Linked DNA regions of Homo sapiens. The protein of the gene in region 2 purifies or fractionates together with the protein of the main gene of each other region. This does not show direct contact. Each region holds a gene or a part of one and is shown on either strand. Other genes may lie near its edges.

Evidence for each region. Proteins that work in one complex are often made in the same cells at the same time.
Region 1: the proteins of ARNT (region 2) and CUL2 purify together in Homo sapiens (affinity purification with western blotting; 2 studies listed by BioGRID, with this or other methods). This does not show direct contact.

What each region holds. Positions count from the first base shown.
Region 1 is NC_000010.11:35,031,289-35,034,940, forward strand, and holds part of CUL2 (cullin-2), read right to left. Parts: intron 1,986-3,652; coding exon 1,878-1,985; intron 1,207-1,877; coding exon 1,147-1,206; intron 332-1,146; coding exon 203-331; intron 99-202; coding exon 12-98; intron 1-11.
Region 2 is NC_000001.11:150,866,456-150,870,107, forward strand, and holds part of ARNT (aryl hydrocarbon receptor nuclear translocator), read right to left. Parts: intron 1-3,652. UniProt on the Homo sapiens protein: Required for activity of the AHR. Upon ligand binding, AHR translocates into the nucleus, where it heterodimerizes with ARNT and induces transcription by binding to xenobiotic response elements (XRE).

The DNA.
Region 1 (3,652 bases), on a different chromosome or scaffold from region 2:
ACTTACATTACCTTTAATTTGTTGATCATGGCTTCTTCAGAGTCCATAGACATGGATAACCCATGAATTAAACGTTTTGCCAGCATTCTTGCGTAGAACTACATTTAAAAATATTTTAAAAGATTACTTCCTTTCTAATGATTTAGCATTCAGAAATAAAGTTGACCAAAATACAAATGAAACTTTTCTGTTCACAACATACCTTTTGAAAGACGTCCTTGTCATCAATGTATTTGAACACTGTGATGAAGCTCGTGAGCCTGTCTTCCACTTCATTCTCTGTCATCCCTTTCGCTGACTTCTTCAGTAAGTTGTCACAGTACTTAGCAAGCTCATGTAGAAATTGATAATAAATCTTACAAAGGGTGCTTCTGTATATATCACGCCTCAAAGGAGGCAAAGTGGTGATACAAGGTAAGATCAGCGGACAGAATTTTTGCTGTTTTTTTTAGAGACCGGGTCTTGCTCTGTTGCCAGGCTGGATTGCAGTGGACAAGATCATAGCTCACTGCAGCCTCAAACTCCTAGGCTCAAAGGATCCTCCTGCCTCAGCCTCCCAAGTAGTTGGGACTACAGGCATGCACAACCACACCAGGCTTCTAAAGCTTTATGTAATAATCATAAATGTAAACTAAATAAAATATACATCATAAGGTAAATTTTTAAAAAGAACAAGTCAAATATCAAATCATCACTTATTGACCAATAAAGCAACTGATATAAGTAATACAAATTTTTAAAAGAACACCTAGGTGAGTTTCGAGTGGTTTTATAATTTTTGACATTGAACAAGTACTTTAAAAAAAAGTTACAAAAATCTTGTAAGCAAGTTTCCTTCAAAGGTTACCCAAACTTTATCATCAGATTTCCTTTAGATTTCAGATGTAACAGAATCTACATGAAAAGTATTGCAAATTATTTCAAAGTAGATATACATTAAAACCCAAACTTTGTAAAATGGTTATTCTTTAAGACACATAGTATATTGCATTCCTTACATAAATGCCAAACTATATACAATGTAGATAATTTTCCTTCTATTTTTCTGAAAAATGCTACAAAAACCAAATTAATTTGATATTCTGAGTTCTCATTTTCTAATACTGACTTTTCATAAGATTACTTTTCAGCAACCACCAAACTTACCAGTTCAGGTGCTTTGCAAACAGACTTAGGTTCTCTGTAATTTACAACTGACGTAAGGGCCTGAATAAAAAAACACGCCATAATTAACCACCAGCCATAGGGAAAAAGTACAGCTAGTTCAATATAAGCCATAATCTGTACATCCAAAAATTACCCCGCCACATAAAACACAGCATTGCCGGTAGTTTGTTAATATTTTCATGCCTAACATGGTAGACTCCTCTGACTTTATTCTCTAATTACAAAATATCTATATATCCTGTTGCTATTCCAAGATATTCTGTAACTCATTATCGAAATTTGAACAGATAAAATAACGTTACTTAAAAAAAAACTTACAATCTTGTAAGCAGCTTTCCTTTAACGTATGCAAAAGTTCATGTAAAACATATCTATTCTCTTTTCAAATATTATTCAATATAGCCTAAGTATTATGGCCAAAGAAAAAAAATCAGTACTAAAAATTGCAAAATTATGCATGTCTATCCAGAACATATCAGATTAAAAATTCCCCTTATATAGCATAATCACGGGACATTCTACAAGCATTCAATTTAACTATTCAGTTAATAATTTAAAAATTATATTATTTCTATTTTGAATTTCATATCAAAATTACTTAATCTCCATGTCTACATCAGAAACCTCATACTAGAATTCTGATCTTGAAACTGCCTAAAGAATGATAGAGTTTTATGTACATATATAGTATATATGTATTTAAAACTTACCTTATCCAACGCACTCATAAAATGCTGATCACCATTCAAAACAGTGTTGATAAGCTGAACAAATTTACCATGCACTTCCAAAACTGACTCCACAAATAGTGTTGGCATCTAAAAATGAAATATAAGTACAAAACCACATTTTAAGAGGTTCAAGGATATCCAAACTATGAGGTTTATTAGACTTATTAGTAAATTTTTCCTCAAGGAAATTATGTTTCACACATGCACACTTCTCAGAAAATGGTTTTAGCTAAGACGGTCTTAGAAATTTACAACTTTGGTGTTGAAGGCTGGGCACAGTGGCTCACACCTGTAATCCCAGCACTTCTGGGAGGCTGAGGCGGGCGGATCATGAGGTCAGGAGATCGAGACCATCCTGGCCAACACGGTGAAACCCCGTCTCTACTAAAAATACAAAAAAATTAGCCAGACGTGGTGGCGTCCACCTGTAATCCCAGCTACACGGGAGGCTGAGGCAGGGGAACTGCTGGAACCAGGGAGGTGGAGGTTGCAGTGAGCAGAGATCGCACCACTGCACTCCAGCTTGGGCGACAGAGTGAGACTCCGTCTCAGAAAAACAACAACAACAACAAAAAAAAAAAAAAAGGAAGAAAGAAAATAGCTTGTCATTCAACACAACAAGCTGTCATAGACTGTCTAGTACCTGTCAGAAGAACCCACCAAAAGCATACTTTTCTACTGTGTTGGAATAACTTATCTTAAGGATAACAAGACCTGAACTACCAGGTCTATCACTTTCATAGAGGCTTAAATAAGCAAAGACTGCCTGCAAAGTCACTAAAGGCTGAGAGAAAGGAGAGTTAAAAAGCCAATAATCCTGAGAACAGAGACCCCTTGAACTCGGCAAGACAATCCCTCACATCTCAGAGAGAAGAAATACCTAATAGTACAAAAGTGAGTTTTCCCTCTTAATGGAGATAACCATGAAGAAGTTACTACCTAAGACTTAACTAAGTCAGTTGGATTTGAGTCTACCACAAATGTATTCACTTATGTTTCCATCTCCCAGCCTTGACACAAAATTCGATGCTTCTATGCCCAATGTCATTGGACATGGAATCTATAAACGTAATAATGTAAACTAGTAAGTTTGACAAATAATAGAGTAATAAACCTGAATACTATAAACTAATAGTTCTACAAAAAATAGAAAACTGTGGTAAAGGGAATTTGAAGAAATAAAAAAATAGAAAACTTACACATTATTGTGGCATAACATAAAAACTAAAAATTATTACTTGCCAAAAACCAATCTGCAGCTAAGGTAACAGCCTCTAAAAAGTGCTCCTGAACAGTGACGTCTATACACAGATACTATCTTATAGATGAAGGGCAAACAGCTCTACTTAAGAAGAGACAGTAACATTTGAAGTTATTTCTCTCTTGCTCATCAAACATTACCAGTAATAACAAGATTTGGTGATGGGAAAGACAAACTGTTACAGTACAAACTGTTACAGTCATGTGATTGGCAAAGTATTCGAGAAAGATGAGTATTAGGGATATGAGGGTTATTGTTTTGGGTATTTGGGGCAGCAAGCATATACTTACAGAAGATTATTTTAATCTAAATTTGCTTCCTGGACAACCAAATTCAGAGGATATGGAAAGGAGGCAAATTGCAAGTCGTCTATATTACCACTGATTAATACTACTACCATGACAACAAACTACGTTATCAATGCCAATTACACAAAAACACAGTTATTTAAAAATGGCGAGCTTATTTTCCTGTGGAAAGTTAACAACTGTTC
Region 2 (3,652 bases):
ATCTGGAAACTAATGTCTTTCACTGGGACACTTTATTTAAACAGAAACAAAGAATTCTGTTAAAAGAAATAAAAATGATGCCACTGGAGAGAAGGAAATGAGAGAAAGGGAGCAGAGGACTCCCTTATAATTTTTTTGTAACAAACATTTTATAAAACTATCTAAGTCTTTAAATATTAATATATGGATGTATAGTTTTGATTTAAATAACTTTTATATATGTATGTATACACACATACATATACACACACACACACGTATATTTGGCAAAAGACCTGAGAAGAGTTAATAACCCAGATAAACACATAAAAAATAAAATCCAAACACTTATAGTTCCTTAGCCTGGGGAAATGAAAAACTGAATTGTGATAGTGATGAAAGATACAGAAAGGTAGGAAGAACAGCAGATTTAAAGGAAATACTGGTGAGTACATACATATATAGGATGTTAAAGATTATTCAAATAGAGGCTGGGCGCAATGGCTCACACTTGTAATCCCAGCACTGTGGGAGGCCAAGGCAGGTGGATCACTTGAGGACGGGAGTTCAAGACCAGCCTGGCCAACATGGTGAAACCCCATCTCTACTAAAGATACAAAAAATTAGCCAGGCGTGGTGGCACACTGTAGTCCCAGCTACTCGAGAGGCTGAGGCACAAAAATCATTTGAACCTAGGAGGCGGAGGCTGCGGTGAGCCAAGATCGCACCACTGCACTCCAGCCTGGGCAACACAGAAAGACTCTGTCTTTAAAAAAAACAACAACAACAAAAAAAAACAGATTACTCAAATAGAGCTGGGCATCGTGTCATACACCTATAATCCCAGCTACTAGGGAGACCAAGATGGGGGGACTACTTGAGCTCAGCAGTTCAAGACCAGTCTGGGCAATACAGTGAGACCTCATTTCTATAAATTAAAAAAAAAAAAAACTATTCAAACAGAGATGCAGCCAGGCACAATGGCACACACCTGTAGTCCAGCTACTCAGGTTGCTGAAGTGGGAGGAATGCTTGAGCCCAGGATTTCAAGACCAGCCTGGGCAACATAGTAAAACCCTGTCTCAACTTTAAAAGAAAAAGAGAGAGATATCTTTTAAATAGATAAAAATATAGGAAAGTAGTTTATGTGAGAAGCCAGGAATGAAATTTTTGGAGTCTTTTATACATAAAAGATAAATAAAGGGTGATATGGTTTGGCTCTGTGTGTCTCCACCCAAATATCATGTCAAATTGTAATCCCCAGTGTTGAAGGTGCAGTCTGGTGGGAGGTTATTGGATCATAGGGGTGGTTTCCAAAGGTTTAGCACCATTCCCCTAATGCTCTCTCATGATAGAGTTCTCAAGAGATCTGGTTGTTTGAAAGTGTGTAGCACCTTCCCCTTCTCTCCCTCTATCCTGCCAGCCATGTGAAGACATGCTTGCTTCCCCTTCGCCTTCCGCCATGATTCCAAGTTTCCTGAGGCCTCCCCAGCCCTGCCTCCCATACAGCCTGCGGAACTATGAGTCAATTAAACCTCTTTTCTTCATAAATTACCCAGTCTCAGGTAGTTATTTATAGCAGTGTGAGAATGGACTAATACAAAGGGAAGAGGACTATGGTAGGTACCAAGTGAATGTCAAATTGAAGTAGGAAGGCAAGCAGCTAGAAAGGCAGGTAGGTGGGCAAATGGGAAGAAATGAAGGAAACTGCTTGGTTTACTATTTAGTTCTAGCCCCAAGCCGGGCACTGTGGTGTACACTTGTAATCCCAGCTACTCAGGAAGCAGAGGTGGGAGGATCATTTGAGCTCAGGAATCCAAGACCAACGTGGGCAACATAGCAAGACCCTGTCTCAAAAAAGAGTCAAGACCCTGTCTCAAAGAAGAGTCCTAGCCTCAAGGGTGAGAAGAGAAAAGTAGAAGCATACTGAACAAGAGAAAGAAACAAGCAGAAAGATAAGCAAAAAGGACAAAGAAGGAACAATCAGTGATAAAGACCTAGCAACAGTGTCTCTGAAACCAAGTTTCTAGGAGAGGCTCAATTATGGAGTATCAAGAACTTGTAGAGGATTCTAATAACAATCCTAAAAGCTGCAGTGCATGATTCATGCCTGTAATCTCAGCAATCTGGGAGGCCAACAGCAGGAGGATCACTCGAGGACAGTAGTTCAAGACCAGCCTGGGCAGGCCGGGCGCGGTGGCTCACGCCTGTAATCCCAGCACTTTGGGAGGCCGAGGTGGGCAGATCACGAGGTCAGGAGATCGAGACCATCCTGGCCAACATGGTGAAACCCCGTCTCTACTAAAAACACAAAAATTAGCCAGGCGCGGTGGCACGTGCCTGTAGTCCCAGCTACAGGAGGCTGAGGCAGGAGAATCGCTTAAACCCGGGAGGCAGAGGTTGCAGTGAGCCGAGATCACGCCACTGCACTCCAGCCTGGGTGACAAAGCAAGACTCCGTCTCAAAAAATAATAATAAAATTTAAAAAAAAAAGGACCAGCCTGGGCAACATAGCGAGATCCTGTCTCTACAAAATTAAAAAATTAGCTGGGCATGATGGTGCATACCTATGGTCCCAACTATTCAGGAAACTGAGGAGTGAGAATCGCTTGAGCCTAGGAATTGGAGGTGTTGCAGGAAGCTATGGTCACGCTACTGCACTCCAGCCTGGCTGACACAACAGGACCTTGTCTCAAAAAAACCCTTAAAAGTATTTAAAGAATTGAAACATAGAACTAGGAGAAAGAAATATAGAATGTTAGGCTGGGCGCGCTAGCTCAAGCCTATAATCCCAGCACTTTGGGAGGCTGAGGTGGGCGGATCACAAGGTCAGGAGATCGAGGCCATCCTGGCTAACACAGTGAAACCCCATCTCCACTAAAAACACAAAAAATTAGCAGGGCATGGTGGTGGATGCCTGTAGTCCCAGCTACTCGCGAGGATGAGGCAGGAGAATGGCGTGAACCTGGGAGGCGGAGCTTGCAGTGAGCTGAGATCGTGCCACTGCACCCCAGCCTGGGTGACAGAAGGACACTCAGTCTCAAAAAAACAAAACAAAACAAAATGAAGAATTATAGAATGTTACAGAAAAGATTTTAGGAAACTACTCCTTTTTTTTTTTTTTTCCTAGAGACAGGGGCTCACTCTGTCAACCAGATTAGAGTCCAGTGGCATGATCATGGCTCACTGCAGCCCTGACCTAGCAAGCTCAGAGATCCTCCCACCACCTCAGCCTCCCAAGTAGTTGGGACTATAGGCATCCACCACCACATCTAGCTAATTTTTTTATATATATTTTTGTGGAGACAAGGTCTCCCTATATTGCTCAGGCTGGTCTCCAACTCCTGGGCTTAAACAATCCTCTCACCCTGGCCTCTCAAAGTGCTGAGATTACAGGTATGAGCCACCACACTCAGCCTGGAAACTACTGTTCTAGCTCCTTTTTTTAGCACCTTGCACTTGGTTCTCCAACCAAGCAATGCCTTGCCCCCAGGCTGCCTAATGTGGTATTTCACCCTTTTCATCTACAAAAAAGACAATACTCCACCTACCTCCTTCTCAAAAGATATCCATTGTACTATATTTCAGTAGGAAGGTGACTCTAAGTCACAATGGAAAAAATCATAACTTGGAGATTAAGAATGATGACTGTGTAGATGGACTGCCAACAATA